Homo sapiens: one gene and its partners. The protein of the gene in region 2 interacts with the protein of the main gene of each other region in a pairwise test. Each region holds a gene or a part of one and is shown on either strand. Other genes may lie near its edges. The genes, in order: NFIC, TH, TSPYL4 and ZNF569.

The links.
Region 1: the proteins of TH (region 2) and NFIC interact in binary tests that used the Homo sapiens proteins (3 or more experiments, as listed by UniProt).
Region 3: the proteins of TH (region 2) and TSPYL4 interact in binary tests that used the Homo sapiens proteins (3 or more experiments, as listed by UniProt).
Region 4: the proteins of TH (region 2) and ZNF569 interact in binary tests that used the Homo sapiens proteins (3 or more experiments, as listed by UniProt).

Annotation. Positions count from the first base shown.
Region 1 is NC_000019.10:3,362,339-3,369,584, reverse strand, and holds the start of NFIC (nuclear factor 1 C-type), read right to left. Parts: upstream 3,003-7,246; 5' UTR 2,949-3,002; coding exon 2,919-2,948; intron 1-2,918.
Region 2 is NC_000011.10:2,168,798-2,176,606, forward strand, and holds the start of TH (tyrosine 3-monooxygenase), read right to left. Parts: upstream 3,019-7,809; 5' UTR 2,990-3,018; coding exon 2,900-2,989; coding exon of another isoform or gene 2,888-2,899; intron 1,974-2,887; coding exon of another isoform or gene 1,893-1,973; intron 1,075-1,892; coding exon 853-1,074; intron 1-852. UniProt on the Homo sapiens protein: Catalyzes the conversion of L-tyrosine to L-dihydroxyphenylalanine (L-Dopa), the rate-limiting step in the biosynthesis of catecholamines, dopamine, noradrenaline, and adrenaline. Uses tetrahydrobiopterin and molecular oxygen to convert tyrosine to L-Dopa.
Region 3 is NC_000006.12:116,251,059-116,258,938, reverse strand, and holds the start of TSPYL4 (testis-specific Y-encoded-like protein 4), read left to right. Parts: upstream 1-4,863; 5' UTR 4,864-4,930; coding exon 4,931-6,175; 3' UTR 6,176-7,880.
Region 4 is NC_000019.10:37,422,437-37,429,456, forward strand, and holds part of ZNF569 (zinc finger protein 569), read right to left. Parts: intron 3,943-7,020; coding exon 3,816-3,942; intron 3,528-3,815; coding exon 3,432-3,527; intron 1-3,431. UniProt on the Homo sapiens protein: May be involved in transcriptional regulation.

The DNA of each region.
Region 1 (7,246 bases), on a different chromosome or scaffold from region 2:
CCCACTCCCCACTCGGCGGGCCGGGCCCGGGTGGCACAGAGCGGGCTGGCACCGAGATGCCCCCCACCCCCCGCCAGCCTCGGCTCCCGAGAAGGATCCGGGTCGGATCAGCTAAAAGGGAGCTATTTTCGGTTGGGCTCAGGTTGTAAAATTAGCTGGGAAAAGGGGGAGAGGGAGGCCCAGAGACAGAGAGAGACAGAGAGAGAGGAGTAAGGAGACACATGCAGAGATAGAGAGAGACAGGGAGAGAGGGGGCAAGGGGAGACACGCAGAGACAGAGGAGAAAGGGAAGGTGAGACAGAGATGAAGAGACAGACAGACATATTGGAGAGAAACAGAGACAGAGAGGAAGGGGGCAGAGAGACAGAGACAGAGAAACAGACAGAGACACATCGGACAGACACACAAAGAAGGCAAAGGGAGGGAGAGACAGAGAGACAGAGACACATCAAAGAGACATGCAGAGACAAAGAGGAGAAAGGGATGGTGAGATAGACATGAAGAGACAGAGACAGTGGGAGAGACTGAGACATCAGAGAGACAGAGGATGAGAAAGAGAGACACAAAGAGACCAACAGTGACTGGGAGTGAAACAGAGGCGGGGAGAGACAGAGATGGAGAGACAGGGAGAAACAGACACACACACACACACACACACACACACACACACAGAGTCAGAGCAAGACAGAGAGAAAGAGAGAAAGACAGACAAAAAGAGACCAAGATGAGAGAAACGGAGGGGACGTGATTCGGGAAACTGAGTCAGGCAGCCAGGACTTGGGTGGGAGGCTCCTGCATGGGGCACTCAGGGTCCTTCTGAGTCCCCCAGCCCACCCCACTGGCTACCCCAGACCAGGCTGGGCCTTGGGGGAACAGTGGGGATTACATTCAGGCTGAAGACAAACTGGAAAGGGGGTCCCCAGCTCCACTACAGGGCTGGGGTGGAGGGCGGGGCAGAGAGGAGAATCGCAGGGGAGGAGGGAGCCCCCTGCACTTGGGACTCGCTGTCCCCACTCTGGCCTGGGAGCTCTCTGCCTCTGTCTCTCTGCCTGTCTCTGTCTTCTCATCTCTGTCTCTTGCACGCAGCACCCCTGGATAGTTTTTAGTTTTTAGCCTCTCCGTTTTTTGGTTTCCACAGACAGCCCTCCTGGCTGGTCCTTGCCCTGTTCCTGGAGAAACTGAGGCCGAGTTAGCAATTCTCTGAGGCAAAGCCTGGACTGGGGTTCTTACTAACCCCCAACCCACCCCAGCAACCAGGATGTCTCCCAACCAGCCCTGATGGGGGAATTCCAGGGTGCACAGGCAGCCTTCCAACCTCCCCAGCCTGGAACAGCCTCCCCTCCGCTCAGCCCTCCCAAATGGCTCCTTCCAGCTGGTGAGGACAGAGCGGGGACACCTCAGTCACCCCACAAGCCCAGAGACTTCAAAGGCTGCCCGAGGTCACACAGCGTGCCCACTCGAACCCTAGTTGTTCTTGGAGAACTTCAAAGAGATGCCTTCTTCGGGAACCCCCCCCCCAAAGCTGCTCAGAAAGGGAAACTGAGGCTGGGACAGGGACTTACCCAAGGTCACTCAGGGGATCACAGGTAGGACAGACCTCAGACCCCCTCAGCACCAGCTCCCACATTCCCTGTCGGCTGCAGGGGGCCGGTGAGAAAGACCCTACCAAGGAGCATGCCTGGCGTGGGGGGTCCCTCACTGCACCATGCCCTGGAGCGGAAGCCGGGGACTCATATACTCCCCACACAGTGCTTCTTAAGACGGGCCTGGCCCTCGCTGGAATCGCACCCCCCACGTGCCGGGACTTTACAGTTTGCCCGCCATACTGTCCCCTCTCCAGAACCGGCCTTAGCCGCACCTCACTTCAGGGGAAACTGAGGCCAGAACCTCTCCAGCCTAAAGACACACTGCGTAAGGAGGAAAGCAGCGGTCTAGAAAACGGAACTTGCAGACCTCGGGGTCCCCGGGAGCCTGGGCTGGAAGGAGTCCCCGGGGGGAGCCGCCCCCTCCCCACACACCCCCTCGGCCATTGCACAAGGCTCGGCCCCGGGGCAGTCTGGGAGTGCGGCCAGGGGTGAGAGGCTACGGGAGGGGGAGGGGGAGGGGGAGGGGACGGGGCAGGTGCCGGGCTGGCGAGGGCGTCCGCAGCGCCGCAGTGCCCGGGCCAGACCCGGAGCGCCGGGCCTCCCGCTCCTCCCGGCGGCGGCTCCAGAATCCAGAATCCAGAATCCAGAATCGATGCAGCGAAAATACCGGGACGGTGCTGGGGGGCTTGCAAAGGAGGGGGGACCCAGCCGGGCCGCCGGAGCACCCTTCCCCCTCCTGGGCCTCCAACTTCTCCTGCCCCCTCCCCCTCCATGCACACGTGGGCCAATAACGAGGGAAAGGCGACCGAGGGCCAGGGCGGCCCGCACAACCTTGGTGGGGGGACACGGGGAAAACACATGAGAGGTCCCTTTCTCTCCAGCTGGGGAGACCCAGGGTCCAATCACGACCCCCTAGATTCCTCTCAGAGGCAGGCGGGGGGCTTCCCGCAGAGCCCTTGCTGGAGGGGGGCCAGCCCCCACCCCGACCTTTCCGAGTGTCGGGGCGGGGGTGCGGAGTGCGTCGGTGTGTGGGGGGGGGACGCAAATCTGCAGACCAAGCCCCACATCCGGGAGAGGTCCCGAGAGTCGGGGTTGGGGGTGCTGGGCGGGAGTCCCGCGTAGGGGGTCCGCGGTAGGTAAGGGTGTGGGGGGGGTACCCCAGCCTGACCCATCCCCCCACCGGACCCCAGCCCTCGGCGCGGGGGGCATCCCGGGCAGGGATGGCGGGAGGGACGCGCGCCTTTTTCGTCCCGCCTCCTCCTGCTTCAAAACTCCGGGGCTGGGATGCGGGGGGCGCGGGGGCGCCGGCGGGGGGCCGGGCGAGGACCGTACCTGGGTGAGGCAGAGCGGGGACGAATACATCCCGGGCGCGGCGGGAGGCGCAGGGCCGGCCGGAGCGGGCGCGCTGAACTTACTGAGTCATTTTTCCAAACCACCCCCCCGCCCCCCCCAACCCCCCCCCCCGCCCCGCGGCCGGCGCGCTCTCCTCGCCGCCTCCTCCCTCGGTCTCCCTCCTCCTCCCTCCTGCTCTCCCTCTCTCGCGCCGCCCGCCTCGCTCTCTGTCCCTCTCTCCCTCCGTCTCTCTCTTCCTCTCTCCCCCGTCTCTGTCTCTCTGTCTCTCTCTCTACCCTCTGACACCCTCCCCCTCCCACCCCGAACCTCCCACTTCTCAACACCCAACTTTCAAAGAAACGAGGGAAAAAAGGGCGCGAGCGAGAAAGGAGAGCCTCCCCCGACGTCTCAGGACCCCCCCGCTCCTCCCGTATTTACGCAATGCCCCAGGGCACTAGACCAGGACCCCAGGACTGCAGGGCGACCCCAATTCGGATCAAGCGGAGAGGGGGGACAGGGTTGTTTCTGGACATTGAGGGGCCAGGGGTGGATTTTTAAGGCCCCCCCTCCCCACCCCCCCATCACCCCCGAGCTGGCCGGGAAGTTGGAGGAAAGAGCCAGGGGGGAGGGAAGGAATGAAGAAGTGACGTGCGCAGAGGCCGGCCAGCGCGCCTCTTTCCCCTTAAAGATGTACGACCCTGGGTGCACGGTGAGCTGGTCCCACAGCACCCTGGCTCCCTTCTCCCCCCAGAGCCAGGCAGGGGCTGCGGGTCCCCAGCTAGAGGGGCTTGTGTGCAGCTGTCCCTTCCTTGGCCAGAAGGGCCCAGGCTAACACGGGAGGCTCCAGAATTTGCTCTCTTCACCCAGCACCCAAGGGGCAGGGGAGGGGTGGCCTCGCCTGTGTGTCTCTCCAGCACCCCAGGAGGACGGTGTCCAGGCGGGATCTCCAGCTGGCCAGATAAACCCTTGCAGCCTCCCCCTGGGTATCCAATAATTTCCACCTGCCTCAGGGGTGTGCCCTTTTCACAGATCTCAAGACTGAGGTATGGCAAGTGTGGCTTGGAGCCAGGCCATCTGGACCTGGAGCCCACATTCTGTTCTCCTTCTAGACGTAACAGGGCAGAGACCTGGCCTGCCTCCGTCTGAGCCCCCAGGGCATCTGATGACAGGGCCCCAACCCTCCCCCGGTTCACTCCCTGGATCCTCCCAGGCTAGCTCAGAGGCTGCTGTGTCTCTCATTCCCATCCCAAGGGTTCTCCCCTATAAAGTGGCTTAAAGATGCCCATCCTGTGGGATTGCTGGGGATAAGGACAATGACCTTAGCAGAGCCTTGACCTTGGGTCAAATGTTCACTAAAGACACATTCTTAGAAAGCTTGGCCATTTCACCTCATCTCTCTGAGCTTCCCAAGGACAAATGATACCCTCTCACCAAGCTGGGGCAGGTGCCCCAGGCCCAGGGGCGCAGAAGATACCAGCACCCATTATCCTCAGGCATTACAGGAGAGGAAACTGAGGCCCAGAGAACGGAAGCCACTTGCCCAGGGTCTGACAGGTAAACTAGGAGGGAGCAGAATTCCTGCAGCGTAGGTTCCCTAGGCCCCCCACAGGCTCCCCTCTGCATGACGGTGACATTATTCAAACAGTGCTTAGTACATCACGAACGGTCCATAAATGTGTGTGTCTGTGTATTTTAAACCCACTGTGCAGCTGTGGGGAGCATTTGAATTAAATGGTGAGAAGTGTATCTGGAAATCCACATACCAATATAACGTGAAGCAATTTATTTTATTAAAACACGCTAGGGACACATACAGGGTGAAATCTAAAATTCACAGATATTTAAAAGTTGCAGTTGACTTCAGACACTCCTCCTAGACTTCCAGACCCCGTGCCTTCCACCCTCCCTCCCCTGTACAGACCACCCTGCCTGCAGCCTTCATTCAGCAGCTTAGAATCCTTTGGAAGGTGAAGTTTAGAGAGCAGAGACTGCCCCTCTTGGAACCTCGGTTTCCTCATCTGTAAAATGGCTATAGTAACAGGATGCATCTTGGGAGGTGGGGAAGGTTGGAGTCTTTACATAGCATGTGGGAAGGCTGTGTGAATATTATTGGTGGCGGTAGCTGCAGGGAGAAACTTCTGCAAGTGTACGAACAGCAGCCTATATCCCAGTTTGGGTGGCAAGGGACCCCCGCAGCACACACAGTTGGTTCCCTAAATTGCCGCGTGGGCTCGCTGCTTGGGTCTATGTCTCCTCCAGTCAGCAGCTTCGTCTCTCTGCACCTCGGCTCTCCCTCTGTGAAATGGGGCGACGCCAGCTCATAACCCTCCAGGTTGTAGGCAAGTCAGCAAATACCTGCCCGTGGTTACAACAGGGAACTGTACGTCATAGTTTCTTTAAAAAGGCAATTGGTAGATTGGGACCTGCATGTGGAGGGCCCGGAAGATGGGTGCATGATTTAGCTCCTGGCACTTTCGAGCACAATCTGGCTCATTTTTTTTTTTTTTCAAAGCACTCTCTCTACAGTTATTTCACTCTTCGGCATCTCTGTAACTGTCCCAGATACAGGAGCACAAAAGAGTTGACTGCCACCTATAAAACTAATGCCCACAATTTGGAGGCAGCCATGCTGTCCATCTGTGGGGGACCGGTTTAGTAATCCCAACACAGGCTGGGACACTATGCAGCTGAGTAAAACCAGTGGCTCCCAACTGGTTATGTCCCCAAGAGACAAGTGGGGGGACAGAAAGCTGGAGAGCTCTCCCCCTTGGCACTGTGGACACTGGGGCTGGATCGCTCTCTGGGTTGGGGCCGTCCTGGGCCCTGCAGGGTGCTGAGCAGAGTCCATGGCCTCCACCCACTCCATGCCAGGGGCACCCCCCAGTCGTGACAACCACAAATGTCCTTAGACATGGCTAAGTGTCCCATGGGAACAGAATCAACCCTGGCTGAGACCCCACTGCTGTAGACCCAGCAAGGAAATTCAAGATCTCATTTAGGGTTTTAAAGAGTACACATGTATTTATACAAATATACATAGTATCCTTTACATACACACACATGCACACACACCCACACACACACATATCTCCTTTGGCCGGTTGTAGTGGCTCACGCCTGTAATCCCAACACTTTGGGAGGCCGAGGCAGGCAGATCACTTGAGGTCAGGAGTTTAAAATCAGCCTGGCCAACATGGCGAAACCCCGTCTCTACTAAAATTACAAAAATTAGCCGGGCATGGGCGAGGGTGCCTGTAATGTCAGCTACTCGGGAGGCTGAGGCTGGAGGTTCGCTTGAACTCGGGAGGTGGAGGTTGCAGTGAGCCAGGATCATGCCATTGCACTCCAGCCTGGGCAACAGAGCGAAACTCCATCTCAAAAAAAAAAAAAAAAAAAATATATATATATATATATATATATATATACACACACATACACATACATATACATATGTCTCCTTTATGGAAATACACGAGTATTTCCACAAGTACATCCTTTATGGAAATATACACATATGCACATGTATCCTCTATAAGTGTGTATTTCTCAGTCCTGCAAATGCTCCAACTATAGATGGTAACATTCTGGAGCGGGGTTCCACCCAGGAATGGGGGTGATCAGAAAGATTGGATTTTTTTTCCTCTGGATACAGTTGTATCCTCTTCATATGATCACTAATGGCTTCAGTAATTAAAGGAAAACTTAAAAAGTTGAATGCAATTCACAGAGCAGCTCAGGCAGGGTAGACAGGAACCCCCAGCCCCCCATGGTAACCCCACAGCCACCACACCCAGAGAATAAAGGACATAATCTTGCAGGCAAATGATTACACAGCAGTGCAGTGTGCAGTCAGCCTCCCCTAGCCCCGCACCTGCTCAGCAAGGGGCTCACAATGTCAGCTCCCCAGGAACCTTGCAAGGGTCCCATGTGGTCCCATTTTACAGATGAGAAACTGAGGCTGTAAGAAGGGATGTTAAAGTCAAGTGAGTTAAAGGTCAGATAGGCCGTTGAGGCTGGTACAGATAGACACACACACCACACACTACGACCTACAGAGACACACAGACACACATCGTGCAGACTCAAGCAGCTGCAGACACAGACTCCACACGACACACAGCTACATACACAAAGACACAAATACACGCACAGACTCACATAAAAACAGACCCATATATCATCACAGCCTTCCCCCCACACCTGACCTCAGATACCTCCTCAAAGAGGGGCGAGCAGAGACACACACACACACACACAGACCCACATGGCACACACACAGCCACAAACACACCCTCCCAACTCCCCACAGGACGCTTCTTGACAAGCAC
Region 2 (7,809 bases):
ACACAGATCCCGTTCTTCCAGGCTCAGGTCAGCTGTCGGCCACCAGGCCAGGGTTTGCCACTGGCAAGTTGGATTTTGTGTTACGTGCCTAACCAGGAGTTGTCACCGCTTGAGGCTTAACCTGGTTCTGGGCGGCTCGGTGTGTGTGTCCCAAGGCCATGCCACACAGTCCGGCTCCTCAGCCACTGGTCAGAAGGTGCCCCCAACCCTGGTGGCCTCATCCAGGTTTGTAGGATGGGCCCTGAGTCTCACTGGCCCCTGAGCGTCCAGGACACTGGCCAGAAGGGTCCGCTCCACCCCCACCTCCTGTTGCCTAGCAACAAGGGCGGTGGGTCGCAGTGGCCCTCGGGCCACAAAACTGGCTCTGGGAGCTGGGGGGCGGGGAGTCTGGCTTTAATGTCATTTGGGAGCTTCTTCCGGGAGCTGGGTCACCTGCCTCCCGGGGCACAGTGGGGCCGGAGTGACTAATGCAATCAGTGGTCACCTGAGCCACTGTGCTGGGTGGGTGGGAGAGGGCACACTGCCCTGCCCCTGCCTCTTGTGCTGCCCTGCTGGGAGCCCCCCACGTGGGAAATGGTGGGTGAGGGGGATCCAGGGGATGGGCAAGGCAAGAGGCACAGTGGGGCTTGGTAGCCTCAGCCCTAGGGGTGGGCTCAGGATCCCTCAAAAACACGGGGGTGTGGCTAGATGCCATGGGGGCTGAGCTGAGGCCTGAGACTCCCCTGCTGCATCCTGTGCCGGCCTCGGGGGCCTGGGCAGCTGCACCTCTGCTATAGAGGGGTCAGGAACTCAGCCCACACAGCCCCACCCACAGGTGAACTTGCCCCAGGGACACGAAGGCCACCAGCTCACCTCAAACACCTTCACAGCTCGGGACAGCGCCGAGGGCTTGGTGGCCCTCGGGGAGAAGAGCAGGTTTAGCACGGCCTTCCCCTCCTTCTCCTCAAAGGCCACAGCCTCCAGGGGGTCCCCGGGCTCCGAGGGGACTGCAGCGGCCGCTGCTGCCACCGCCGCCTCCCGCTCCTTGCGGGCGTCCTCGATGAGGCTCTGCCTGCGCCCAATGAACCGCGGGGACTGTGGGGACAAGGGGCACCCATGCCTCCTCCACCTGCTGAGACCCGGGGACCTCCACCCACAGCTGGTCCCACAGTCGGGCAGCGCTGATGGCACACAGAGGCAGGGGATGAGAGCACGTTTTTGAGCGCCTACTGTGTGCCTGCTGGGGCAGATGCTAGCCGAGGTGCCTGCGGGCATTGCACGCCCTTCCCGATGGGGGCAGCCCAGTCAGAAGCAGTGGTGGTGGGGGAGGAGTGGGGGCTGGGAAGGTGCTCGCCTGCTCCCCACTCTGTGGCGAGCAGACAGACAGAGACGCTGTGTCACTCATCCCCAGGCCAGGCGCTAACTGGATTAGTGATGGGAAGAGGGCGATGTCTTGATGGACAGTGGCATCGGCTGCCGGGGAGGGAACGGCAGCTCAGGAAGGAGCTGCCCCCACAGGGCCCCAGTGAACAACCCCCCTACCCTCCTGGCTGCCGCACAGGGGACCCTTTCTCACACTCCCATCAGGACACCTGTCCTCGGGCCCTGCCCCTCTGTGCCACCCCGCAGGCGCCCGCTCCTGGCTGCCTTGTCATCCCTCCACCCTTTGTCATAGCTCTGGGCGCAGGTGTCTCTCCCTGGGCTCAGCGCCTCTGACCCCTCGATCCCAGAGCCGTCCCAGGCCTGGACAGAGGGGGACTTGGCAGACACCTGGGGCTCATCCCTTGGAGCTGAACTCCCAAGAAGGCTCTGGGCCCCTTGTAAGAGAAGAATCAGCTTCATCCTGAGCTTCCAGGGTTGTGGAACATGAAGGGGAGCAGCAGAAGCCCCTCCCAGAGTCCCCTCTTACTTACCCTTGGGGTGGGGGTGTAGGATGCAGCTGGGGCTGCAGTTCCAGGCCACGGAGAGCCTGTGAGGCTGGGCCCCGGGGCGCCCTGGGGAGGGGATGCCTGATGGGGAGCCTGGTGGGGGAGGGTAGGGGAGGGCGGGGGAGGACGGGGGAGGGCGCCCTGTGTCCCTGAGAAGGTACCTGGAAATGACACTGCTACAACTCACACCACATTTCAATCAAGGTCCATAAATAAAAACCCATTTTAAATGTGCCAGGGAGCCCAAGGTTCTGAGTGCCCAAGGAGGCACCGAAGACCCCTCCTGTGGGCTGAAAAGCTCCCGATTATCCAGCCTGGCCCACACAGTCCCCTGTACACAGGGCTTCCGAGTGCAGGTCACAGGGAACACAGACTCCATGGTGAATGAATGAATGAATGAATGAATGAATGAGGGAAATAAGGGAGGAACAGGCCAATGGGAATCACCCCAGAGCCCAGATACCCTTTGAATTTTGCCCCCTATTTGCCCAGGACCCCCCACCATGAGCTGCTGCTAGAGCCTGGGAAGGGCCTTGGGGCTGCCTCCCCAAGCAGGCAGGCTGGTTGGGGTGCTGACTAGGGCAGCTGGGGCAGAGGGAGGCAGGGGCAGGTGGGAGTAGGGTGGGGGCTGGGTGCAGCAGCCGGGGACCTCTGGCCATCTTGGATTTTTTGGATGGATTTGTTTCCACATTCCGATCGTTAAGATTCAAGATGAAACAAGACACAGAGACCCACACGACCCCCGAGAGAGGTCGGCCTAAGAGGGGCACACACAGGGACAGGCATCACCTCACCCTCCCCCAACAGGGACTCAAACACCAGGCACAGGGGATGCCGCTGTGCCCAGGCCTCCACATCCACGCCGCGTCCCAGGGGTTTGCATGGACCCTGAGCCTGGGGCTGCCAGCCAGGCTGGGGAGTAGCAGAGGCAGCTGGCACCAGCCCTGGGCTCCGGTCCACTGCGGCCGCCGGGCACCTACCTGCCCTCTTACCATGATGGCCTCTGCCTGCTTGGCGTCCAGCTCAGACACGGCCCTGCGGAAGCCCTTGGCCTGTGGCGTGGTGGCGTCGGGGGTGGGCATGGCTCAGTGTGGAGGTCCGGGCTCCGTCTCCACAGCCCTGGCCCAGCAGCCTCTTATAAGCTGAGCTGACGTCAAAGCCCCCTCTGGGTCCCCCACCTTCCCCTCCTTACATCCCCCACCCCTGCCTGCTGTGCCTGATGGAGGCGGGGGTGGGTGAGGAAGGAGGGAGGCGCAGGAGAAAGGGCTCGTCCGTGGAATCTAATTGCCTTCACTCCCCAGCCCTGTCTGAATCATCCTCAGCCCGCGGGCTTGCGGGGACCAGGGGCTCGTGCTCTGCGGGGGGCTGAGACAGCCAGGGTCCCCTTGGCCCCACAGCCCTCAAGAGAGCACACAGGGAGGGGCTTTCTGGCAGCCCAGGGGCACACTTTTAATGAACACCAGAACCTCGTGGCAGACCGACCCAGAAAGCCCCAAGACGGGGAATCCAGCCTCCAGCCTCAGATGTCAGGAGGCAATTTGTTTGCTTCTCCAGAAGATTCCAGGCCGTGTGTCTCATAGACGTGGTTCCTAGGAGTGCCATCTGCCCACAGCCCCCGGGCCCTGCAGGTGTGGCCCTTGCAGCGGCTTCCCAAGCTCGCCCCGTGGGGTCCAGAATGTCCCAGGAGGGCCCACCTGTCCAGTGTGGAGGACCCTGGGAGGCTGAAGAAGACATCTCTAAGGAGACGCCACGCGTTTCCAAATGGCTGCCACCTCCTGCATCACAGTCCCCACCAGGGTTGCCAGGGCGACCAGGGCCAGGGACGGCTTCCACCCACCCCACTCAGCCCCTCTATGGCCCACTGCTAGCTCCTGGCTTCCCTCGGGGTCCTGTGGCCCCTTCTTTAAAGAGCACGCACGTCCCTCAGTGCTGAGGGCCCTGATGCCTTCCCCTTGGAGAGACCTTTGCAGTTTCTCCTCTACCCCACCAGGCCCCGGGTTGAGGGTGACCCTGGGGTGACCTGAGAACTCCCTTGAGGACAACCCCAGCCTAGAGCCTCCCCCAAGTTCCATGTCCGCCCCGCAGGCACCCGCATCCAGCCCACGCCCACTGGCACCTCCTGCTCCCAGCCGCTGCCCCACCCAGGGAGAGTGATGCCCCTGCCCAGGGTGGCTTCTGGCCCTTCTGGTGGAAGGGGAGGCCTCCCCATCCCTCTGGGGTCAGCAGAGATGGCCAGAGCCTGCCTTGACAATGCTGGACTGTACAGAGGGAAGGACGTGGCCCCAGAGTGCATGGCCTGCGGCTGAACGCTGCCACCGCTGTCCCTCCTGGAGAAGAACCGTTTCCGACAGGGCTTGGGGCTTCCTGTATCTGCTGGGCTTTCTGGTGTTGGCAGCCCAAGATGACACCCTGGGCCCAGCAGGAGCCAGAAGCCCTAGACGCTCCCTGACTTCTCGAAGGCCTACCCCGGCTGGTCACTGTGGCAGCCAGAGCTGGCATCTCTCAGGGCCCACTCTGCTCCTGTCAGCTGTGGGACTCCCCGCTCCCCGTTCTCTCTTCAACAATAGCCCCTGGGACCTTTCCTAAAACTGCTTCAGCCATGGCATCCCTGTCCCACACCCCTCCGTGGCTCCTCGCTGCCCTCTGCAGGCAGGCTGAGTGCTCAGTCAAAGCAAAGGGAAGACCCCCCAACCCTTCCCACTTCCTGGCCCAGAAGGATTTGGGGCTCCGTGATCCCCGGTTTGCAGTGTCATTCCTCACCCACCTCTTATCCGGGTGAACTCCTATGCATCCCACAAAACCCAGTTCCGTCGCTGCTCACTCTGCAATGCCTGCCCTTTCTTGCCACGATATTAATGCCCCTCCCTTGCGCTCCTCTGGAACATCCCTGGGGGCAGGGAAGCCTACCGCTCGGCCCCTGCTGTCTCTCAGCACCCAGTGCAGACCCTGTCCTCTCTCGGAGATGCTATGCCCCTCCACAGTGTTCCCCAAAGGCCTCCACCTCCTGTGGGTCCTGCCCACAGTAGGTCTGGGTGCCTGCTCAGAAGGGCGTTGGAGGGATTTGCCTCCAAGACCTCAGCCTGAAGGCTCAGCCTCTGGCCTCGCCCTGCGGCCCGTGAGCTTCTGTCACCCAGGGCTGAGGCCCACCCACCTGAGTCCCTGGTGATGGCCCTTGGGTGGCCCAGCCTCCATGCCCAGTGTCCAGGCCTGGTGAAGCTCTGCATGGCTCCCCCGAGCTCCCCTCAAGGTCCCCAGAAAGAGTCTCATTTGCCTCCCCCAGGGTCGGCTGCTGAGGATCCCTCGGTGAGGCAGCTCCAGGCCCCCCAGCACCCCGCCCCAGCTCTGCCCAGGGCGGCCCCAGTGCTCAGGTGCCCAGGCCAGGAGGAGAGACATGCCTGATGAACACCACGCCGGAGGCTCATGGCCCACACTGCCGGATGTGGATTTAACCTTTCAGCAAATGTCTTCCACTGATACAAATATTGCTTTTTAATTCGGTTTCCTGCCGGGCCAGTTGTGCTTTCATGGAAGCCCGATGGGAACTAAGCTTACTAGACTCTTCCTTGGGGCCAGGCTCTCTGGAGGCAGGAGCCCAGGCCAGGTGCTGAGGCTGGGGAGGCCCCTGGACCCCTGTGGAGGTGAGTGCTGCCCTCAGGTGCCTGCACCTGCCCTGCCTCCAGCCTCCCGCCCCAATCAGGCAGCATCCATCCCTGCCTATCCATTCCTGGGAAGCCTGTCCCACACGCCAGCCCCTTCAGGGCCGGGGAACCATGCTGTACCCCAGATCCAAGGCCCCTGTTGGCACAGAGGTGCCCCCGACTCCAGTCCTGGCCCTGGCCCCGCCCTCCTTTGTGCCGTGCCCCTCTCCGATTCCAGATGGTGAGGGTATCCATGGAGGCCCCAAAAGTCTACCCTGGCCAGCCTCCCCGCTCCCAGCCCGAGGGTACCTCTCCAGTCTGGACCACCCATGATTGAGCCATGCCCCGTGTCACCCACCTGCCTCTGGCCCTCTCCAGAGATGTCCACAAACACCAGGAAGGCTCCACTCCAGCGCCCACGGGACGAGGCCTCTCCACGCTGGGCACAGGCCTGGAGGGAGCACACGGCTGGCCCCTGGTCTTGGTAGAGCTCAGTGCTGGGTCAGCCTGCGGCATCCACGTTCGGGCAGCTGAGGTGTTCACAGACCCATTCTGCAGATGCGAGGACTGAGGTTCTGAGGTGCAACTTCTCAGGGGTCATGCAGTGAGTCTCCAGCCCAGGTTTCCCAACTCCCAAGACACTGGTCTTTCCTTTTTTTCTTTTTTTTTGAGACCGAGTCTCGCTCTGTCACCCAGGCTGGAGTGCAATGGCGCGATCTCGGCTCACTGCAAGCTCCGCCTCCCCGGTTCACGCCATTCTCCTGCCTCAGCCTCCCAAGTAGCTGGGACTACAGGCGCCCACCACCACGCCCAGCTAACTTTTTGTATTTTTAGTGGAGACGGGGTTTCACTGTGTTAGCCAGGATGGTCTCGATCTCCTGACTTCGTGATCCGCCCACCTCGGCCTCCCAAAGTGCTGGGATTACAGGCGTGAGCCACTGCGCCCGGCCTGACACTGGTCTTTCAAAGATCCGGTGGCATCCATCCCCTGGCACTGTGGGGCTCAGGAACCTAGGCCACAGGGAACAAATCAGACAGGCTGCTGTGACCAGCGTCCCATCTACAGAGACCCCAGAGGGAAGGGCAGAGCTGGGACAGGGTTCTCTGGAGGCCGAGGTCACGCCCCAAGAGACCCCTGGGGCCAGCATACTGGCCCCTGGGAAGGAGAAGGGCTGGAGCGGAGCCCCACCAGGGGGGGCTATGAGGTGGGGCCAGGAGTGAGGGCCGACCCAGGCCAGATCAGAGACAAAACAGGTGACCAGGGGAGTGGGGGCCCCGCAGAGGTCTGAGGAGCCCTTGCTGTCCCCTCCATTGCACCAGGCTCCACCTTCCTGCACGGAGCCCTCTGGGCTTCCCTCCATACCCCACCACCCTCCACCACTTCCGCCGTCCCTGTGGTTACAGCCCCTGCCACCATGGCCGTAAGGAATGCTGAGCCAGCTCCACAATGGAGCGTGTTCTCTCTCAACAGCCTCTCAGCCCGAGGCTTAATCACCCAGATTAATCACCCAGCACGTCTGTGCCCTGGGACTGGTGCCCACTCCCCGCGTGGGGCAGGGTCAGAGTGCTGACTTCGACCTGGCTGTGAGGCTGCTCCGCCCACAGGGCGAGTCTCTGAGGCCACCAGGCCTGCTCCCCAGCACCAGCCTTGCCCACCACGGGCCCTTCCCAAATCCAGGCCTGCTGGAGGAGCCCAGCCATGTGCTGGGGAGGAGCCCAGGAGGTGTTCTGGGTCCCCTGGCTGACAGGCATCGCCCTGTGGCTCTGCAGGGTCTAGCCATGGCCTGGCTGTGGTGTGCACAGGGCTCAGGTGGCCCTGTGATCTTTGAGAGCCAGCATGGTGTCCTCTTGCAAGTGCCTAGGCAAATGCAGGCATCTGTGTGAGGCACACACACATGCACACATGGGGCACACAAGCACACACACAACACTCCATGCACGTGTGAGCACCCATGACACAGGTACACACCACAGGTACAAGCAGCATCCACACACTGCACATGCAAGCACACTCACACATGACGTGTACATAGCACACATACAGGCACACTCAGACATAACACATGTGTGCACCACACACATGCACACACAGATGCATATGACACATGCATGCATATATGTACAAGCACACTTACATGGCACCTGTACACACCACACATACAAGTGTACTCATGTACACGATACACATACGATGCACTCGTAATGACCCACGGACACACCAGATGCACACACGGATGTGCATGCACTACACAGGCAAACACACT
Region 3 (7,880 bases), on a different chromosome or scaffold from region 2:
TGCTTCCACAAAGCTCAGTGTCCCATTGTGGAGCGCCTTACTAACTCCATGATGATGCACGGCTGCAACAACGGCAAGAAGCTCATGACTGTGTGCATCGTCAAGCATGCCTTCGAGGTCATACACCTGCTCACAGGCGAGAACCCTCTGCAGGTCCTGGTGAACGCCATCATCAACAGTGGTCCCCGGGAGGACTCCACACGCATTGGGTGCGCCGGGACTGTGAGACGACAGGCTGTGGACGTGTCCCCACTTCGCCGTGTGAATCAGGCCATCTGGCTGCTGTGCACAGGTGCTCGTGAGGCTGCCTTCCGGAACATTAAGACCATTGCTGAGTGCCTGGCAGAGGAGCTCATCAATGCTGCCAAGGGCTCCTCCAACTCCTATGCCATTAAGAAGAAGGACGTGTGGCCTTCTTGGAGCATGTGGCCAAGTCCAACCGCTGATTTTCCCAGCTGTTGCCCAATAAACCTGTCTGCCCTTCAGGGCAGCCCTACCAAAAAAAGCAAAAAAATTACAACTAAGTTATTATAATGACTTTAAAAAATGTGCATGTTGATATACAATATGAATTTCAAGAAAGGAAAAGGGAGTTATAAAGCACGTTATAAAAAGAAATATCTGGCCAGGTCCGGTGGCTCACACCTGTAATCCCAGCTCTTTGAGAGGCCAAGGCGGGCAGATCACCTGAGGTTGGGAGTTTGAGGCCAGCCTGGCCAATATGGTGAAACCCTGTATCTACTAAAAAAAAAAAAATTAGCCGGGCATGGTGGCAGGTGCCTGTAATCCCAGCTACTTGGGAGACTGAGGTAGAACTGCTTGAACCCAGGAGGTGGAGGTTGCAGTGAGCCAAGATCTTGCCACTGCACTCCAGCCTGGCTGTGACAGAGCGAGACTCCATCTAAAAATAAAATAAAAGTAAAAAATAAATGTTATATCTGATGAGCTGAGAACTGTTAAGGCATTGAAACACAGAATCATGAATTCTTGTTTCTCTTTAGTAATTGGGCACTTCCTCAACAATTGTCACTAATTTTATGGATGGGGGCAGGCTATAGACTGAGTGTTTTTGTCCCCTCTAATATATTGAAACCTAATCCCCAATGTGAGAGTATTTGGAGCTGGGGTCCTCTGGGGGGCAATCGGTGCCCTATAAAAGAGACCTCTGGTTAGAGCCCTAATGAGATTAGTGCCACTATAAAAGAAACCCCAGAGAGATCCCTCACTCCTTTTTGCATGTGAGGACACAGCAAAACAAAACAAAACAAAACACAAAAAAACAACAAACTACAGTCTAAGAATCAGGATGTAGGCCCTCACCAGACACCAAATCTGTTGGTGCCTTGATCTTGGAATTCCCAGCCTTCAGAACTGTGAGAAGTAAGTTACTGTTTACAAGCCACCCACTCTATGGTATTTTGTTACAACAGCCTGAATGGACTAAGACAGGTAAAGGAAAAGAAGATAAAGAAGAAAGTTCAACATTAAATTGGGATGGTCATGTAGTCTTATTTCTAAGAAGGTGGCTTTTCATTTTATGGGTTGTGTAAGGTTGCAGAATACTATGGTGAATGAGTGCACAGGCTCTCCAGTCAGATTACCTCGTTCAGATTGTGGCTCTACCACTTGCTGTGTGATCTTGGATAAACCACTTTATTTCTCATTGCCTCAATTTCTTCTGAGGCATAGGGAAGGGGAGGTCATAATATCACCTCACAGGGTCCTTGTAAAAATTAAATGAGATACACATTTAAGCACATAAAAGTATATGGTATATAGAAAACACTAAATAATGAACCAGAAACTATATCATTCTGAAAAAGAAACTGCTGGTCAAAGATGTAACAATAGGGGATATTTCACAAATTTTCCAATCTTTATACTTTAGTAAAGTCATTCCTGTTTGACTGTATTAATTTATGTTTGAACTTCCATTAAATATCTTTTCTCCTTGCAAATAAAAATTACCTCATAGATTTTCATGGCATTTTCTATCGATATTTTCCCATAGAATCATAAGTCACTGATGTAGTTTTTTCTGCTTAGTAAGGTTTATTGCCAATTTCCAGTAGAATAGACTTTACTGTGTACAAAATATATATTATTCTAATGTGCAAAAAATGTAAAATATAACTCATAGCTACTATTATATATCCACCCACCTCAAAATGAAACACAAGGGTAGTCATACTATTCATTTTGGTAAAATTTTTTAAAATTTTTATTTAAATTTAAATTTTCACTTAAATAATCAAGATTCATTAAAACATTCTATGAGATAGTAACTGGACTATACTGTCGTAGATGCTACAGAAGCTGCTATGCAGTCATTATCTAGCTGGGATAAAACTGACCTTAATGAAACAACCAATAAAGTTAAAAAGTAGAGGATAAATAAGTACGGTCATTTGCTGCATAACATTTTGGTCAAAGATGAACTGCATATACAAGTGTGGGACCATACAATTGTAATACTCTATTTTTACTGTATCATTCTTATGTTTAGATACAAAAATGCTTACCATTATGTTACAAGTGCCTACAGTATTCAGTACAGCAACATGCTGTTCAGGTTTGTAGCCTAGGAGCAATATGATATACTATTTAGCTTAGGTGTATAGTAGGCTATTGCAGCTAGGTTTGATAGATGTACTGTATGATGTTTCCATAATGACAAAATCCCTGTCATTCAGTGAAACGTAACTGTACTAAGTTGGATAGTAAAAGTCATAAGGGCTATACAGAAATCAGAAGACTGTCAAAATGGCAAGTAATTAAGGAAGGAGGTAAAGTAATAAGGTGGGAGGAGGCAATCTGCCAATTAATACATATGTGACCATGGGCATGTTAACTGCTCTGTGCTCACTGGGTCTTTGTTTATAAAATCTAATGTATTTAAACTGCCTAGTACAATCTACATGAACTGAGTGTTAAAGAATGGCCAGGTGGTTATGAGTGAAAAATGATTCAGGTGACAGAACTAATACAGGCTAGAGATGGGAATGCTTTGAGTAGTAGAGATATAAATCTTTAAAAAACTTTGGCACACACAAAAAGAAAAAGAAGTTCACATGTAATTTTATACTTTTCTATAAATTTGTATAGTAGCAAACTTGTTTTTTCCTGCTGCATGGAAAAGTAACTTTCATTCAGTATTCCCTGCTTCTCTTCATCTTGACTCAGGTTATAATGGAAAAGTTACTCTTTCAACAGTGCAAAGGTTCTTTGGAAAAGAAACAGAGCAGTGTCAATAATTCAAAGTCACAAAGTCAATTATAGCACGCTGTTTATGTGTTTACAAAGACGATACCTCAATAGATTGATTTCACCCCACAAATAAAAAAAGAGCGTTTATTAAGACAAAGAGGAAAGAGGGAGAGAAAAATAATTGCTCTCTGCTGTGTGAATCTTGTTTGCATATTTCTTATGGGATAACTGATTAGCTGGCAGGCAGTAAAGAGGTCATTCTGGACACATTGTCCTTGGGTAGGCTGACTAGGCATACAAAAAATCCTGCAAGGCAGGCTGTTTCTCCGTATTGTCTGCCAGTGACCTTTCATCAGTACTTTATCTTAGTTGAACCAGAACTACACTCCTTCCCTCGCTAGAAGTCTCAGTATATATGATGTATTCCTCTAAGAGGAATCCTTTTTCTCTAAATCTGTACTTCTGAGCCTGTATTTGAAAGTGATCATAATCTGGGGGGCTTAAAATGGAGTTTCTTTTACAAAGAGTTATAATCATAACCGTTTATTTGAATATAAATTTGACATTAAACATAAATATGCAAAATTTAAATTTCCCTTTGGTCTTGCATTTTTCTAAGGATTAACACCATTATTCTCACACTCCAACAAACTAATATATTGTACTGATAATCACTATCAAATGAATTGTAAGAGCTAACTGACTCGAATAGACAATAACTAACCTTACTTTTAAAGTATTTTAAGAGACAGTAGCATAGATGCCTGCACATAGCTGATTATTGCTCCTGTGCTGCAGTGAATTACCACATGAACACATTTTGAAAAGATTTGTTAGCTTCATGTCCACAGGCATTATGAAGCAGGAACCACTTTTAGATTAAGATTGTAACCTGAGGAAAAGAACATATGCATCAGTTTAGAAATTAAAATCCCCTGAGATATTTCTTTCAGTAATGCTTAAAAGCCTAAATTTGTGCTCGTGTGCCAGTCACCTCTACGTAAGGAAAAACATTTTGCTACTCTTTGTTAAAAGTGAAGAGGAAATATTGTCCACTTGTTTTGTAGATGTTGGCCAAATTATATAAACTTTAAAATCTGTAAGACAAATTGAAATATTCCTTTATTATGTCTTGTTAGGATGAGAGAAGTTTGCCTTTCAGCTGCTCCTTAATTTTAAAAATAACAACACAGCAACACTTCTCTTTAAAATCAAACTCTGCTCATTTAAATTCTTTGGTAATAGCCATGAATCCACACCTTAAAAGAAGGAAGGCCTGTGAGTTCGTGAATCCACTTTCCTACTCAGGAGAAGCCCTATGAACTGACTTGAATAGACAGTAACTCACCTTAAAGTAAATATTTTCAGAAACAATAGGTTAGGTGCCTTAGAAATTCATTCAGAGGCTTAGAAATCCACATTAACACAGTTCTTACATGCTTGAGTCTGGTCTACATCCATTTACGTAAGTAAAACTCCCCTTCCAGACTGACGAAATTCTTTTTGTGACAAGAAGACAAAGGAATACGATGGATTGATAAGCGTAGTCAACCGCGCAGAGAGTTCTCGCGCGATGTTACGACGCTACCGCCCTGACATCACCAGTTGCCATGGTAGCACCGCCGAGAGTAAAGGAGGGGTGGTGCTAGACGTTTCGGGCAGAGCTCGGCCGCTGCGGAGGACAAGGAACTCTCCCTCTCCCACTAGTCTGACTTCTTCCAAAATGAGCGGCCTGGATGGGGGCAACAAGCTCCCTCTCGCCCAAACCGGCGGCCTGGCTGCTCCCGACCATGCCTCAGGAGATCCGGACCGAGACCAGTGCCAAGGGCTCCGTGAAGAAACCGAGGCGACACAGGTGATGGCGAACACAGGTGGGGGCAGCCTGGAGACCGTTGCGGAGGGGGGTGCATCCCAGGATCCTGTCGACTGTGGCCCCGCGCTCCGCGTCCCAGTTGCCGGGAGTCGCGGCGGTGCAGCGACCAAAGCCGGGCAGGAGGATGCTCCACCTTCTACGAAAGGTCTGGAAGCAGCCTCTGCCGCCGAGGCTGCTGACAGCAGCCAGAAAAATGGCTGTCAGCTTGGAGAGCCCCGTGGCCCTGCTGGGCAGAAGGCTCTAGAAGCCTGTGGCGCAGGGGGCTTGGGGTCTCAGATGATACCGGGGAAGAAGGCCAAGGAAGTGACGACTAAAAAACGCGCCATCTCGGCAGCAGTGGAAAAGGAGGGAGAAGCAGGGGCGGCGATGGAGGAAAAGAAGGTAGTGCAGAAGGAAAAAAAGGTGGCAGGAGGGGTGAAAGAGGAGACACGGCCCAGGGCCCCGAAGATCAATAACTGCATGGACTCACTGGAGGCCATCGATCAAGAGTTGTCAAACGTAAATGCCCAGGCTGACAGGGCCTTCCTTCAGCTTGAGCGCAAGTTTGGCCGCATGCGAAGGCTCCACATGCAGCGCAGAAGTTTCATTATCCAGAATATCCCAGGTTTCTGGGTTACTGCCTTTCGAAACCACCCCCAGCTGTCACCTATGATCAGTGGCCAAGATGAAGACATGCTGAGGTACATGATCAATTTGGAGGTGGAGGAGCTTAAACACCCCAGAGCAGGCTGCAAATTCAAGTTCATCTTTCAGGGCAACCCCTACTTCCGAAATGAGGGGCTTGTCAAGGAATATGAACGCAGATCCTCTGGCCGGGTGGTGTCTCTTTCCACTCCAATCCGCTGGCACCGAGGCCAAGACCCCCAGGCTCATATCCACAGAAACCGGGAAGGGAACACTATCCCTAGTTTCTTCAACTGGTTTTCAGACCACAGCCTTCTAGAATTCGACAGAATTGCAGAGATTATCAAAGGAGAACTGTGGCCCAATCCCCTACAATACTACCTGATGGGTGAAGGGCCCCGTAGAGGAATTCGAGGCCCACCAAGGCAGCCAGTGGAGAGCGCCAGATCCTTCAGGTTCCAGTCTGGCTAATCTCTGTCCTGTGAGAAGCTTCTGCACAAGTTTCCTTACCACCTCCTCTTGGACCTATGCTTGGCCAACAGCATGCAGTCTTCCATCTGCTTTCTCTTCATACTGTGGATTATCTTTTCCTTTGGTTCTAAATCTTCAGTAATCGGTTGCAAGATTGTTGGCTTACCTGCCTGTGCCATTCTTCCTCTGGGCCTTCATGCTTTTCTGCATTGTGTTAACATGTTTCAAGTGCATGGCCTTCTACGGCTTCTATGCCAAGCGTATGATACTATAGATATAGTGTACCATACTGCCTTTCTTTGCATGGCTTGGACCCTATCTGTGACCATGCTCTTCTCCCAATTTAAGTGGTTCTGTACCACAAAGAATCTTGATACATTTTCACAAATAACTGATTGGGCTTCATACTTTATGCTGGCTGTGTCCTGATACCCATGTACTTATGGTAAGCTATTTGGGTATTACCACTGCAAGACAAAACTGATATCTTAACCCGGCCATCAACCCAAATTGGACATTCCAGACTACCACCAACTGGATCCCAGCTGCCTTCCTGGGCTTGTGCCATCCACCCTACTGGTTATCTGATAGAACAAGCTGGTGGCTGATGGGTGACTGCTAGGCGTGACTGAGGTAATAGATGAAAAGTGTTCTATGTTATCACATTGGTTTTCCTGTACCTTTGGTTACTCTACGTCATGACCAGCTGCTGGTGAGTATGAAGCCTGTGCTATAGCCCACCCCTACTCACTCTCACCTTCTGGTTGAACTTTGCTTAGGCCACCATTGTCTGCCTCATCAGGAACTATCTGTAGACGTAGCTCCCAGGGAGCTCACAGCAACACCCCCTACCACCAGGATGGGCAGTAATATGTGACAGAGCCCAAAGCAAGGCTGGAACGCAGTCCCTTCCAGCTTAGTCTTTCTGACTCCTAGCCAACAAACCATCCTTAATGTGAGCAACTTCTTTAGGCATTTCCTCTTTTCCCCGCCTGCACCCACTCTGAACATGACAAAAGTTGCCAGAGTTGGGGCATTGAGGAAGAGATATTTCTGGAATGTGAGACTTGTTATGCCTCTGTCTCTTTCTCTCCCTCCTCCTCCCCTCTCCCTCCCCCTCTCCCTCCCATCCCTTTTCTTCCCTTTCACTCTGAAGCAGTTTTAGCTTATTAACAGAAAACAAAACTGGCAAAGCAGGCTTTTTGTTTAATTTGCTCTTTCCCTGATTGTGTTCAGAGAGAAAGGTTATGATTAAATGGGCTCCAGATCTCTTATTGCCCTTATTCCTCCACCCCACTTCTTTTAGCAAGGTCTGAAAGTTTCAAAGGGAGACCTATAGGTTAATTGTTTAGTTATAGGCAGTGTTAAATTAGGCAGATTTTGACATATTTATCTTTTTACCCCATCCATTCTACCAAAACCTGTGTATTTCTTGAGTTTTTAGTTTGAGAAGCTGGAAAGAGAGAGAAGGGCCTCACAGTGATGGGTTCAGGACGGGTCAAAGGCAAAGGCCTTTGTGATGTGAGCAAAGGCAACCAAAACTTAGCCTCACTCCACTTTTCTAAAGATGGAAATTCTTTTTTGGGCCTTGGACTGCTTCTAGGGTAGCATTTTGTAGGTCACTCTTCTCCTTTGTACTATTTTGTTTCTGCCCTGATGTCCCTTGGGTCTCCATCCTACTGCCTGGCTTTCTTGGCCCTCATTT
Region 4 (7,020 bases), on a different chromosome or scaffold from region 2:
TGATCACAGATCCCCATAACAGATAATAATATAATGAAAAGGTTTGAAATATTGCAAGAATGTGACACAGACACACACAGTGAGCACATGCTTTTGGAAAAATGGTGCCAATGGGCTTGTTCGATGCAGGGCTGCCACAAGCCTTCAATTTATAAAAAAATGCAACATTTGCCAAGCACAATAAAATAAAGCATAATAACATGAGATATGCCTGTATAAATGCATGAGGAAGAATCATTGAGAAAACAGAAAGGGTATAAAATTTTACCAGCAGAACCAAGGAAATAATTGGAAGAGAAAAAGAAAACCACCATTGAAATGAAGAATATTATGGTGCGGGGGGAATAGAACTTTCACCATTAGAATTACGGTACAGCAATGTCACACTGCAAAACAAGGTAATGGATAAGACAGACATTCTGATGCATCACTGGGTCTACAGGACATAGCACAAACCTCCAAGAATACCTCTCTACCCACCTATCCCACACAAAAAATAAACAATAGGAAAACAAGCAACTGTTAGCTAAAATCAGAGAACACTACAAATAATTTCATACCAAAACATTTGAAAATACAGATGAAACAAATTTTCAAATATAATAGATGATCCTGGAATATCAATGTGTGGTAACTTTTTACAGATACAGAGGAAATTTTAATATTTATGGAAGTTACTTTGTCAACTCTGAAAATTTGAAGACTAGAATTAAGTGGGTAATTTCATGGAAAAATACAACCTATTATCAAAAACTAATGCCAAAAGACAAAAATATATTTACATACACATAGGATAGTTATAAAAGGAAAAATGAAAAGAGTTGTCAAGGAAACTTCCCTCAGAAATACACAAGGTCGAAATAGTTCAACAGGTAACATCTACCAAATTTTCTAGGGAGTTTTAACACTAATGCTATATAAATGCTCTAGAGCATGAAGGAAAGCTTCCAAATTCTATTTATAAAACCAGTCTAACATTGACATTAAAAACTTTAAAAGTATAAACAATTATTTAAATTCATAGCAAACATAAGAGGATGAGTCATTATTGAGAAATATCTAAACATAATTGAACCATATACATTTTAAAAATTGTGATAATCTCCTATAGGAACAGATTGTTTTAACTACATGAATTATTTTAAAAAGTCGAGGTGGCAAAAAAGTACTTCAACGAGGAATAATCTCTTTGGGAAAAAAACACAAGAAAAACATATGACAGATGATGTGCCAATCAGCTCAATATGTTAAGAGTTCATACAAATTAAGAACTTGACAGAAACAAGGGCAAAGGATACCAACTGTTTATTAAAACAAAGAAATATAGATTGGAAACATGAAAAGATGCTTGCCTTCACTCATCATAAAGGAAATGTAAATTCAAGCTATAATTAGCTACCATTTTTCACCTCAGTTTGGCAACGATTTTTTTAAATGCTAACAGACTACACTGGTTGAAGTTACTGGTGGAAATATAAATTATTACAGTCTCTTTGGAGGGCAAAAATGACTTTATAAAATTCAAAATACGTGTATATGGACATATATATGTATATGTATATATGTATATGTGGGTATATATAGATGCACACCTACATTACATACACTTGCATATGTACATGACAAATATATCAGAAAATGGGAGCTACCAAAAAATCAGCACTGACTTAAAACTTTTATTGAAATAAAGGGTGGTAGTGATTATTGAAGTATGAGAGTAAAACCTAAAAATACAGTGGGAAGTATGACTGTACGACATTTCAGACATTTACAATGGAAGAAAGAAGAGAAAGTAAGGGACTATAAATGTCAGTAGGTTTGATTTAACAACTGCAAATTAGTGAATGTATGCAAAAAGAAAGGATCCTGTATATGAGGGTGGATGGTACTCCCGAAGATGCTAATAATAGAATGAATATCAAAGTAAGCCTGGAAACTTATTAGGAAAGGTTGGTATCTAGCACACAGGTAAGAAAGCCAACCAGATCTCTAAGTTCTGAGGAAAGAAATTAAGAATGGTATCTAGAAATGACATCTTAGGTTTATAAAAGAGTTTGCATCAATGGTCACTTTTGTACTACAAAAGTGTACATCAGGCCAGGCGCGGTGGCTCACGCCTGTAATCTCAGCACTTTGGGAGGCTGAGGTGGGCGGATCACTTGAGGTCAGGAGTTCAAGACCAGCCTGGCCAACATAGTGAAACCCCATCCCTACTAAAAATACCAAAAAGTTAGCCAGGCATGGTGGTGCATGCCTATAGTCCCAGCTACTCGGGAGGCTGAGGCATGAGAATCGTTTGAACCCAGGAGCCAGAGGTTGCAGTGAGCCAAGATTGCACCACTGCACTCCAGCCTGGGTGACAGAGTGAGACTCTGTCTCAAAAAAAAAAAAAAAAAAAAAAAAGCCGGGCATGGTGGCTCATGCCTGTAATCCCAACACTTTGGGAGGCCAAGGCAGGCAGATCACGAGGTCAGGAGATCAAGACCATCCTGGCTAACATGGTGAAACCCTGTCTTTACTAAAAATACAAAAAATTAGCAGGGTGTGGTGGCACGTGCCTGTAGTCCCAGCTATCAGGAGGCTGAGGCAGGAAAATCACTTGAACCTGGGAGGTGGGGGTTGCAGTGAGCCGAGATCGCGCCACTGTACTCCACAGTGACAGAGTCTCACTCTGTCACACACATACACACACAAAAGGTCTACATGCTTTCTGAAAATATATATATATTTTTTGAGACAGGGTCTCACTCCGTTGCCTAGGCTAGAGTGCAGTGCTGTGATCATGGCTTACTGTAGCCTCAACCTCCTAGGCTCAAGTGATCCTCCCACCTCAGCCTTCCAAGCAGCTGGGATCATAAGCGTATGCCACCACACGTGGCTAATTTTTTTTTTTTTTTTTTTTTTTGACAGAGTCTTGCTCTGTCGCCCAGGCTGGAGTGCAGTGGCGCAATCTTGGCTCACTGCAACCTCTGCCTCCCGGGTTCAAGCGATTCTCCTGCCTCAGCCTCCCAAGTAGCTGGGACTACAGGCGCGTGTCACCACGCCAAGCTAATTTTTTGTATTTTTAGTAGAGATGGGGTTTCACCGTGTTAGCCAGGATGGTTGTGATCTCCTGACCTCATGATCCGCCCACCTCGGCCTCCTAAAGTGCAGGGATTACAGGCGCAAGCCACTGTGCCAGGCCCAATTTTTCTTTTCTCTTTTTTTTTTAAGAGATGAGGTCTCACTATGTTGCCCAGGCTGGTCCCAAACTCCTGGACTCAAGCAATCCTTCCACCTTGGCTTCCCAAAGTGCTGGGACTATAGGTATGAACCACTGTGCCAACCTCTGAAAATATCTTTGAAGAATATTTTAGAGGGATCAACCATTCACTGATTAATCATTAATAGGCCCTGACCTCTCCTCACCTGTCTGGTTCCCTTCCACTAACCTTGCCAGTGTCTCCTTAATACTTCTTCCTCCATCACCCATGGTTCTTCTTCTTGCTCCAATTTGAAAATCACATCAGGTTTGGTGAACGGATAGCCTGTCAAAGGGAAGTTACATAGATTTGGGCATACATACTAGGAACAAAGAACCACCCAAAAATTGAGGCTGGCCCAGGAAAACCAGGCTAAAGGACAAGAAAATGTGGCTTCGGGGGTTCTGTCCCCTTTTGCTCTGAAAACTGCAGCATGGACATTCACATGAGCAAAAGCATCCCAAGGCCAAGCTCACTCTAATATTTAAAAGGTCCATGTATTTCAGAAACACTGGGAGGAAAAAAAAGGTACTTTCTTTCCAGAGTTTGAATTATATAGTAAATTACTCTTACCTACTGTGATTAAGTTGTTATAGTTTTCTAGCATCACATTCCGGTACAGTTTTCTCTGAGCAGGATCCAATCTCTTCCACTCCTCCTGAGTGAAGTCGATAGCCACATCTTTGAATGTTACTGTTCCCTGTAACAACACACTCCCACTCAATCTGAAGTCATCCATCTTGGGTGATTGTAAACAAAATATATTGAACCTTGTTCTGATATTAATCAGAGGTTATTAAAAAAGCCCATCATATTAGCAGCATCCTGTCATTTATGTTCATTCACTGATTAGCAAGCACATGTCTTTAATATCTACCATGAGTTAAAGGGGAGATTTTAGGTACCAATTTATATTGAGTGTGAAAGAAACATAAAAATAAAACTTTAACCAAGTTAAGTGGTTTGAGATCTCACAAGATACCAAAGGCAGGAAAAAATGAAAGCAAGGCTTAGATGGAAGCAGAAGCAGGGGACAGAATGATAGGTGAAATCTGTGGTATGGTGGGACATGCAACTGGAGATAGCCACTGATTTAGCAGTTGGATGTATTGTTCATGAGATCAGGAGAAATCCACATTGGAAATGAAGATTTATGGGTCATCAGCCTGTAGTATGTGTCTGCAGCCATGAAAATGGGATCTGATTGTTCAAATAGTTTACATGTACTGGAAAAGGGGCCACAGATAGAATCTCAGAGACAACCATGAAAAAACACATGCCCTGATGACAATTTGTTTTTTAATGGTCAGAAATAGAATTATAACTGAAACTGTGTATTTAAAAAGCTGTAGAATGGCTGGGTATTACATGGCTCATGCCTGTAATCCCAGCACTTTAGGAGACTGAGACGTGAAAATCCCTTGAGCCCAGGAGTTTTGAGACGGGCCTGGGCAATGTGGCGAAACCGTCTGTACAAAAAATACAAAAATTAGCCAGGTGTGGTGGTGTGCATCTGTAGTCCCAGCTAGTCAGGAGGCTGAGGTAGGAGGATTGCTTGAGCCCGGGAGGTGGAGGTTGCAGTGAGTCGTGATTGCACCACTACACTCCAGCCTGGGTGGCAGAGCAAGGCCCTGTCTCAAAAAAAAAAAGCTATTGAATGAATTTCAAAAAAACTGGTGAACTTCTTAAAGGCAATGTGATTTGAATATAGAAATCTAATGCACTCTTCCTAGTTCAAAACAGAAATGCCCAAACGTATATGAACATAAGAAAAAATCTTAAATAGCACTCAGCCTGGAAAAAAGGGAGCAATCCATATTTCCTACTGTTTCAGGAATTTCTACCAGAAACTAGGTGAGAAAAAAGAAAGTCTCCAATAGCTCGTTCACAATGTATCTAAGAATTTGTTTCTAGGTCCTAAAAGGAACTTATGAGCATGAACATCCATTAACACTAAGGGCTCAGAGAAAGCTGTGGTACTGATGGGAGATCAGCTCCTGAAAGCCCTTCCTGCTGAAAATCATGATGCTTGCAATAAACATGTTCAAGAAGCAAAAGGCAAAGTGTCAGAGGAAAAAAACCCTGAAATCCAGGGGTTTTTAATATTTCCCCTCATCTGGGAGGAAGATCCAAATAAGCCTGGATAAAGCATTTGGTGAGGAAGTGGGACTGAGGAGAAAGCATGATGTGGAAATCTGGCCCTGGTATAATAGTTTCACCAATTACAGGGAAGAACATGAGCACATAAGAAACACACTCTTGCTGGGACTACCTCAGCTGCAGACTTTTTCCTCAGGAAGTTGTATTTTCTTCAGGAGGTCAGATCATTAAACTAGTAAATAAATTTTAAAAATCAGCACCAAAGATTTTACAAGAAAATCCTAATTGCCCCTAGCTCAAGAGTGAGAGAATCCCAAAAGAAATCATTAAAATACATTTGAAGAAAATACTTGGGAAAAAGAATTTAGTAAATGCAAAAACAGAAACAATTTAAAGTGAAAAATTTAGAACTTACATATACACAAATCTCCATATTTAAAAGCTGGAGCTAGGCGCGGTGGCTCACGCCTGTAATTCTACCACTTTGGGAAGCCGAGGTGGGAGAACTGCTTGAGGCTAGTTCAAGGCCAGTCTGGGCAACATAGCAAAACCTCATCTCTACAATAAATGAATGAATGAATGAATGAATGAATGAATGCCGTGTATGGTGGTGCGTGGCTATAGTCCCAGCTACTTGGGAGGCTGAGGTGGGAAGACTGCTTAAGCCTGGGAGTTTGACTGCAGTGAGCCATGATCTCACCACTGCATTAGAGCAGCCTGGGCAATAGAACAAGACCCTGTCTCTTAAAAAAAAAAAAAAAAAAAAAGCTGATAGTTTAAGAAGAATGAATTAGGCAAATGTTTAGTAAGTTTAAGGAAGAAAAATAAACATCCCAAATTAGGAAAAAACATTAAAACTAATTGATATTTAAAGTAGTATATATCTGTGGTTGAATTTTTTTTTTTTTTTTTGAGATAGAGTCTCGCCCTGTTGCCCAGGCTGGAGTGCAGTGTGGCGTGATGTTGGCTCTCTACAACCTCCGTCTCCTGGATTCAAGTGATTCTCCTGCCTCAGTCTCCCAAATAGCTAGAACTACAGGCGTGCGCCACCACACCCAGCTAATTTTTGTATTTTCAGTAGAGACGGTGTTCCCATGTTGGCCAAGCTGGTCTCTAACTCCTAACCTCAAATGATCTGCCTGCCTCGGCCTCCCAAAGTGCTGGGATTACAGGTGTGAGCCACCACACCCAGCCTGAAATTTTTAAATTCATAATGAAATGAATAGGTTAAAGGGAAACATAAGCCTAAGACTGATCTTAAAAAAAAGAAGAAAATCCCAACAGTGCAATACTATAGCACCCACTGTTATTCTTCTATTCCAATATTTATTCTGTCTTCCCAATTTCTGGCCAGGCACATGGTCTGCTGAAATAAGTATTAATATGTTTATATGATAATGTTCTGGACAGTGAGATGAAAGGACTGCATGCAACTGCTGATAAGTGAACATAAAGGCACGAGGTATACCATTTCTCCTAAGCTTCTACCTTCCTGTAGACTGGTAAGTCAATGCGACTTACCAGAGTCGAGAGCAAACAGAGCCATTTGAGATAATAAGGCAGAAGCCAACAACCAAGAATGGCAGAGCAATGAAGGAGAAAGAGTTTCGTTCTCTGCCCTTTGGAGCTACAGGACCAGCCTTGAACTTCAATATGAGAGACAAATAAACTTATGTCT